Linked DNA regions of Homo sapiens. The protein of the gene in region 1 purifies or fractionates together with the protein of each later gene. This does not show direct contact. Each region holds a gene or a part of one and is shown on either strand. Other genes may lie near its edges. The genes, in order: PTPRJ and P2RY8.

The links.
Region 2: the proteins of PTPRJ (region 1) and P2RY8 purify together in Homo sapiens (co-immunoprecipitation; one large-scale study listed by IntAct). This does not show direct contact.

The regions. Positions count from the first base shown.
Region 1 is NC_000011.10:47,986,919-47,990,756, reverse strand, and holds part of PTPRJ (receptor-type tyrosine-protein phosphatase eta isoform 1 precursor), read right to left. Parts: intron 1-3,838. UniProt on the Homo sapiens protein: Tyrosine phosphatase which dephosphorylates or contributes to the dephosphorylation of CTNND1, FLT3, PDGFRB, MET, KDR, LYN, SRC, MAPK1, MAPK3, EGFR, TJP1, OCLN, PIK3R1 and PIK3R2. Plays a role in cell adhesion, migration, proliferation and differentiation.
Region 2 is NC_000023.11:1,530,372-1,534,209, reverse strand, and holds part of P2RY8 (S-geranylgeranyl-glutathione receptor P2RY8), read left to right. Parts: intron 1-3,838. UniProt on the Homo sapiens protein: G protein-coupled receptor for S-geranylgeranyl-glutathione (GGG), an endogenous metabolite present in lymphoid tissues.

The DNA.
Region 1 (3,838 bases):
CCAAGATTGCGCCACTGAACTCCAGCCTGGGTGACTGGGTGAGACTCCGTCTCCAAAAAAAAAAAAAAAAAAATCCCAACACTTTGGGAGGCCAAGGCAGGCAGATCACTTGAGGTCAGCAGTTCCAGACCAGCCTGGCCAACATGATGAAACCCTGTCACTACTAAAACTACAAAAATTAGCCAGGCATGGTGGCGCATGCTTGTAATCCCAGGCTGAGGCAGAAGAATCACTTGAACCTCAGAGGCAAAGGTTGCAGTGAACCAGGATCACACCACTGCAATCCAGCCTGGGTGACAGAGCAAGACTCCCCCTCAAAAAAAAGAAAAAAAGAGGTTTCATGACATAATTTTGACAATTCATAATTATTGATAATTACAATATTATGGTCTTTGCCCTAACTCTTCAGTAAATGGAATACCTCTCTCTTCTGATACACAAGTATCTATATTCACCTTTTTTTGTCACTTTAAAGGTAACATTATATATACATTGTTCTCTACATAGCCTTTTAATTTATTTAGATATCTTGGAGAGTATTTACCGCCTGCACCTATAGCTGTAACTCATTCTTATAAATGACTGGCTAGTTTTTTGTTTGTTTGTTTTTTGAGATGGAATCTCAGTCTGTCGCCCAGGCTGGAGTGCAGTGGCACAATCAGAAATACTCTTCTGATGTAACTCTTCAGTAAATGGAATACCTCGTGGTATTTTATAAAATGCTGTGTTTATGTTTCCATAGCCATTTACAAGGAATTTTAGCATAATATGATCACACTTAGCTTCTCCAACTACCCTGTGTCAGAGGTACTCCTATTATTAGCATTTTTGGAATATGAAGAGCAAGGATCAGAAAGGTCAAGATACCTGCCCAAGATCACACAGCTAATGAGGTGGTAGAGCCAAGACTCCAACAAAGGAGTCTTGTTCCAAATTCTATGCTCTCTTCACCACCCTAGGGTCTTATTTATCTCTGAGTTCCTAAGGAACAAGTGCTACATCTAAAATAATTGGCATGGGGGAGGGGGAATGTGTTTGCAATACAAATGACAATCGAAGGACTAATTTCCAAAGAGCTTATACAAATTGATAACAAAGATTATATCTATATCTATCTATCTATAGATATAGATTTTTTTTTTTTAATGAACAGGGAGTTAACCAAAAAACAAAAAATGGGGCCTGGCACAGTGGCTCACGCCTGTAATCTCAGCACTTTGGGAGGCCGAGGCAGGTGGGTCACCTGAGATCAGGAGTTCAAGACCAGCCTGGCCAACATGGTTCCTAAGGAACAAGTCCCATCTCTACTAAAAATACAAAAAATTAGCTGGGCGTGGTGGCACACGCCTGTAATCCCAGCTACTCAGAAAGCTGAGGCAGGAGAATCACTTGAACCTGGGAGGTGGAGGTTGCAGTGAGCCAAGATCACGCCATTGCACTCCAGCCTGAACAACAAGAGCAAAACTCTGTCTCAAAAAAAAAAAGAAAACAAAAAAAGAAGAAGAAGCAGAGGCAAATGACCAAAAAACTCAACTAACTCAAAATTAAAGATATAAATAAAAATAACAAGATACGGCCAGGCGCGGTGGCTCACACCTGTAATCCCAGCACTTTGGGAGGCCGAGGCGGGCGGATCACAAGGTCAGGAGATCGAGACCATCCTGGCTAACACGGTGAAACCTCGTCTCTACTAAAAATACAAAAAATTAGCTGGGCTTGGTGGCGGGCGCCTGTAGTCCCAGCTACTCGGGAGGCTGAGGCAGGAGAATGGCATGAACCTGGGAGGCGGAGCTTGCAGTGAGCCCAGCGCCACTGCACTCCAGCCTGGGCAACAGAGCAAGACTCCGTCTCAAAAAAAAAAAAAAAAAAAAAAAAAACAAGATACAATTTTTCACCTTTCAGACTAGCAAACATGTAAAAATTTTCATTTCAGATGAGACGGTATGGAGAAACAGACACTCTCCAAACCTATGGATACAGGTACAAACTGAGGGGACACTTTTGGAGGACAACCTGACAACAGCAATCACACTTTTAAATGCATGCATCTTCCAATCCAGTAATCCTGAAACTAGAAATTTACTCTACAGATAAACTTGTGAAGGTTACAAGAAATATCCACCAGAAACATTACAAAGTATGATTTGTGACGGGACAGGGAGGTGTACTAAAACAACTAAAGTGTCCATTGATAGGAGAATGGTCAAATAAATTGTAGTAAATCCACACATCAAAACACTAGTCATGGTCAGGCATGGTGGCTCACACCTGTAATCCCAGCACTGTGGGAGGCCGAGGTGGGTGGATCACCTGAGGTCAGGAGGCAGAGGCTGCAGTGAGCCGAGATCCAAGATCATGCCACTGCACTCCACGCTGGGGTACAAACTGAGACCGTGTCTCAAAAAAAAAACAATAAAATTAAAAATTTTAAAAAAACCTTCTGAAATTGGATACAATATTGTAAATATGTGCATTCCCTTTTGGGGAAGGATTCTTCCCTTTTACATACTCTCTATACTCTCTAGGGGTCTTGTATCTCTTCTTTTCCCCCCCAAGAAAGATTCAGAACCACTGTGTTATAGGCTCCATGTTGATATGAAGTTTTAATACTCACTCACTCATTCACTCAGAAACCATGAGATAACACTGGGCTACGCCCTGGCACAGGCTCCCAGAAAAATATCACCCAACTCCTGCCCTGGAGACGCAAATCGTTTGTAACACAATAACGACATTGTCCGCCCAAGTTTCAGAAATGGCAACAGGGGACAACTTCCCTCTAACAGGAAGAAGGAAAAGTGGAACTGAAAATTATTTGCATGTTTAAAATTAGACCTTCTGTGGGAGCTGACACTGCCTCGTTTTCAAAATGCCCCCCATCTGCTTACCACCACCCCTTATCCTACCATTTACATGCCAGGGAAATTCTGAGACAATAGGATGACTGCAGCTGTCACTAATAAGGAAGTAATAACAAACTTCCTACAGCCCCTGTCCTCCGAGGGGGCACCAGTAAAGCCACTGGAAAACCAGCCATACAAGGTGGTAAAAAAACTGCTCTGGGCTTCTCTGGTCTAAGATATTCACCACTTTCAGGGATCTCCACTTAGGGACTGGCTGTCCCTCATTATCACCATTCCTTCTCTGGCAAGTGGCAGCCCTTTCTCTGAAGCGGGCAGCAGGGATGTCATTCACAGTCACATCCTACATCACAACTGTGACTGGTTGGTTGGTGCTATCTGAGTCTTGCCCAGTGGCCAGTAAGAGCCATGAAGACAGGCTCCTGTTCCCCACCACGGCCTCTGCTCAGTGCCTGTCCCCCAGACTTAAGAAACTGATCATCTTTACAATTTGGTCATAACCACATCATACTCACATAATTATTTACCCAATGTTTTTCTTTAGACCAACTTTTTATGATATTTAAACAAATTTATTTATCATGATACCACTTTTCACCTCATTCGACCTATAAAATCATGGACTTTTGGGGGTCTTTCTTTACTAAGACCCCCTAAAATAAATTATTTTTTATTTTTTTTCTTTTTGAGACAGGGTCTCACTCTGTTGCCTGGGTTGGAGTGCAGTGGCGCTATCAAGGTTCACCGCAGCTTCAACCTCCCAGGGCTCAAGCCATCCTCCCAACTCAGCCTCTCAAGTAGGTGGGACCACAGGTCCACACCACCATGCCCAGCTAATTTTTTGTATAGACAAGGTCTCACTTTGTCATCCAGGCTGGTCTCAAACTCCTGGGCTCACCTGATCCTCCCACCTCTGCCTTCCAAAGTGCTGAGATTAAAGGAATGAGTCACCCTGCCCAGCCAATAATTCTTAACAT
Region 2 (3,838 bases), on another chromosome or scaffold:
ATAAATATATATGTAAATATATATAAATATATAATATATGTAAATATATTGTATATAAATATATATGTAAATATATATAAATATATAATATATGTAAATATATTATATATAAATATATATGTAAATATATTATATATAAATAATATACAAATATATATGTAAATAATAAATAGATAAGTATATAATATATGTAAATATGTAATATATAAATAATATATAAATATATAATATATTTAAGTTATAAATATATAACTATGTAATATGTAAATAATAAATAATATATGAATATATAATATATTTAAATAATACATATATAAGTATATAATATATAAATAATAAATAATATATAAATACATAATATATTTAAATAAATATAAGTATATAATATATAAATAATAAATAATATATGAATATATAGTATATTTAAATAATAAATATATAAGTATATAATATATAAATAATAAATAATATATGAATAATATATTTAAATAATGAATATATAAGTATATAATATATAAATAATATATAAATATAAAATATATTTAAATAATAAATATGTAAATAATAAATATGTAAATAATAATATATAAATATATAATATATTTAAATAATAAATATATAAGTATATAATATATTTAAATAATAAATATATAAGTATATAATATATAAATAATAAATAAAATATAAATATACAATACATTTAAATAATAAATATATAAGTATATAAGATATAAAGAATAAATAATATATAAATATACAATATATTTAAATAATAAATATATAAATATATAATATATAAATAATAAAAAATACATAAATATATGTTTAAATAATAAATATGTAAATATGTAATATATGAATATATATATATTATTTTTGGCAATCTCTTTTATTTGCCTCAAGAAAGCACACTCCTCAGAAGATTTTTTCAGAAGCTGATGTGTGTTTTTGTTGGTTTGTTTTACACTTTTTACTTCCATAGGTTTTGGGGAAACACGTGCCATTTGGTTACACGAGGAAGTTCTTTAGTGGTGATGTGTGAGATTTCAGGGTATCCGTCACCCAAGCAGTATACACTGAACCCGGTTTGTGGCCTTTTATCCCTCATCCTCTCCCCAATCTTTGCCCTGGAGTTCCCAAAGTCCTTTGTGTCATTCCTTTTTTTTTCTTTTTTCTTTCTTTCGTTTTTTTTTTTTTTTTTTTTTTTGAGACAGAGTTTCACTCTGTTGCCCAGGCTGGAGAGCAGTGGCGCGATCTCGGCTCACTGCAACCTCCTTCTCCCGGATTCAAGCGATTCTCCTGCCTCAGCCTCCTCCTGAGTAACTGGGATTACACGCATGTGCCACCACACCCGGTTAATTTTTGTATTTTTAGTAGAGACGGGGTTTCACCATATTGGCCAGGCTGGTCTCAAACTCCTGACCTTGTGATCTGCCCACCTCGACCTCCCAAAGTGCTGGGATGACAGGTGTGAGCCACCGCATCCGGCCGTTGTGGCATTCTTATGCCTTTGCATCCTCATAGCTTAGCTCTCACTTATGAGTGAGAACATACGATGTTTGGGTTTCCATTCCTGAGTTACTTCACTTAGAATAATAGTCTCCAATCTCATCCAGGCCACTCCAAATGCTATTCTTTTTCATGACTGAGTAGTATTCCATCATAAGTATATGTATATATATATACACATCATATACATCTATACATATATGTGTATATATACACATATACATCTATACATATATGTGTATATATACACATATACATATATACATATATGTGTATATATACACATCATATACATATATACATATATGTGCATATACACACATCATATACGTATATGTGTATATATACACATCATATACATATATGTGTATATATACGTGTGTGTATATATATGGCACACATATATATGACATATATGTGTGTGTGTTTGTGTGTGTGTCAGTGCCGGCATTTATATATATAAATACACCACAGTTTCTTTATCCACCTGTTGATTGATGGGCATTTGGGTTGGTTCCACATTTTTGCAATTGCAAATTGTGCTGCTATAAACATGCCTGTGCAAGTATCTTTTTCGTATAATGAGTTACTTTCCTCTAAGTATCTTTTTCATATAATGAGTTACTTTCCTCTACCTAGATACCCAGCAGTGGGATTGCTGGATCAAATGGTAGTTCTACATTTAGCTCTTTAAGGACTCTCCACACTGTCTTCTATAGTGGCTGTACTAGTTTACGTTCCCACCAGCAGTGCAGACGTGTTCCCTGTTCGCCACATCCACACTAGCATTTGCTATTTCTTGATGTTTTGATTGTGGCCATTCTTGCAGGAGTGAGGTGATGTCACATTCTGCTTTTGATTTGCATTTCCCTGATCATTCGTGATGTTGAGCGTGTTTTCATGCCGCTGAGCCGGGCTGGGACCTTGAGGACTGCGTTGATGCTTTTGTGCAGAGTGCCCTGCTCCAGGGGAAAGGTGCTGGTGCCCTGAGCAGAGGGACTTTGTGGAAGCAGGATGTGTGATTTTCTAGCCAAGAAGGTCTCCATGGGAGGGAGGAGTCCTATGAGACTCTCCATGGCTGGGCAGGGAGTGGCACAGACAGAAGCAGGTGGCAGGTGCCAGGCTGTGTTGGTTTCGGATGATGAGTTGGTGGAATGGCAATGTGCTGTCCAGGCTCCCCAGGAGTTCATGAGCTGGGGGTGGGCTGAGCATGCTAACCCCTCGGGCTGGGCACAGTCAGGCTGGGAGGGGGCCTGGACATTGTTTACGGGGGACCCTGTAAGCAGGGGGACCCCTGATGGAGAGGGCATGCAGGAAGATGGGGCAAGGACAGATCTTGGGATAGAACCATTCATGAGACACAAAAGGCACAGGCTGTCTGCTGGAGCACTAGTGACATTTGGGGCGGGGGAATTCCCTGTGGTGGGGCCATCCTGGGGATTGTAGGGTGTAGAGCAGCGTCCCTGGGCTCCAGCCACAAGGTGCCAGGAGCACCCACAGTTGTGACAATCAGAAATGTCTCCAGATATTACTCAATGTCTCCAGGTAGCAAAATCACTTGCTCATCTATCACTGTCTTAAAGATAGATGGGTGACAAATTAGATAGATAGATAGATAGATAGATAGATAGACAGACAGACAGACAGATAGATAGAATCGATAAATAGATACATAGAATAGATAGATATATACATACATACATAAATTAGATAGGTACATACATACATACATACATGGATAAATAGATTAGATAGATAGATACATAGATACATGCATAGATTAGATAGATAGATGATAGATTAAAGAGATATATAGATAGATGAGAGATAGAATAGACAATACATACATAGATATAGATAGATAATGGTGATGATAGACAGATAGATATATAGATAATAGAGATAGATAGAAAAGATACATACGTAAATTAGATAGATATATACATACATAGATTAGATAGATACATACATACATGGATAAATAGATTAGATAGATAGATATATAGATGCATAGATTAAATAGATGATAGATTAGAGAGATACATAGATAGATGAGAGATAGATAGATAGGATAGATAGATACACACATACATATAGATAGATAATGGTGATGATAGAGAGATAGATCAATCAGATAGATAGATACATAGATAGAATAGATACATACATATGTACGTACATAAATTAGATACATATATACATACATACATAGATTAGATAGGTAGATACATACATACATACATGGATAAATAGATTAGATAGATAGATACATAGATACATACATAGGTGCATTAATAGATTAGAGAGATAGATGATAGATTAGAGAGAT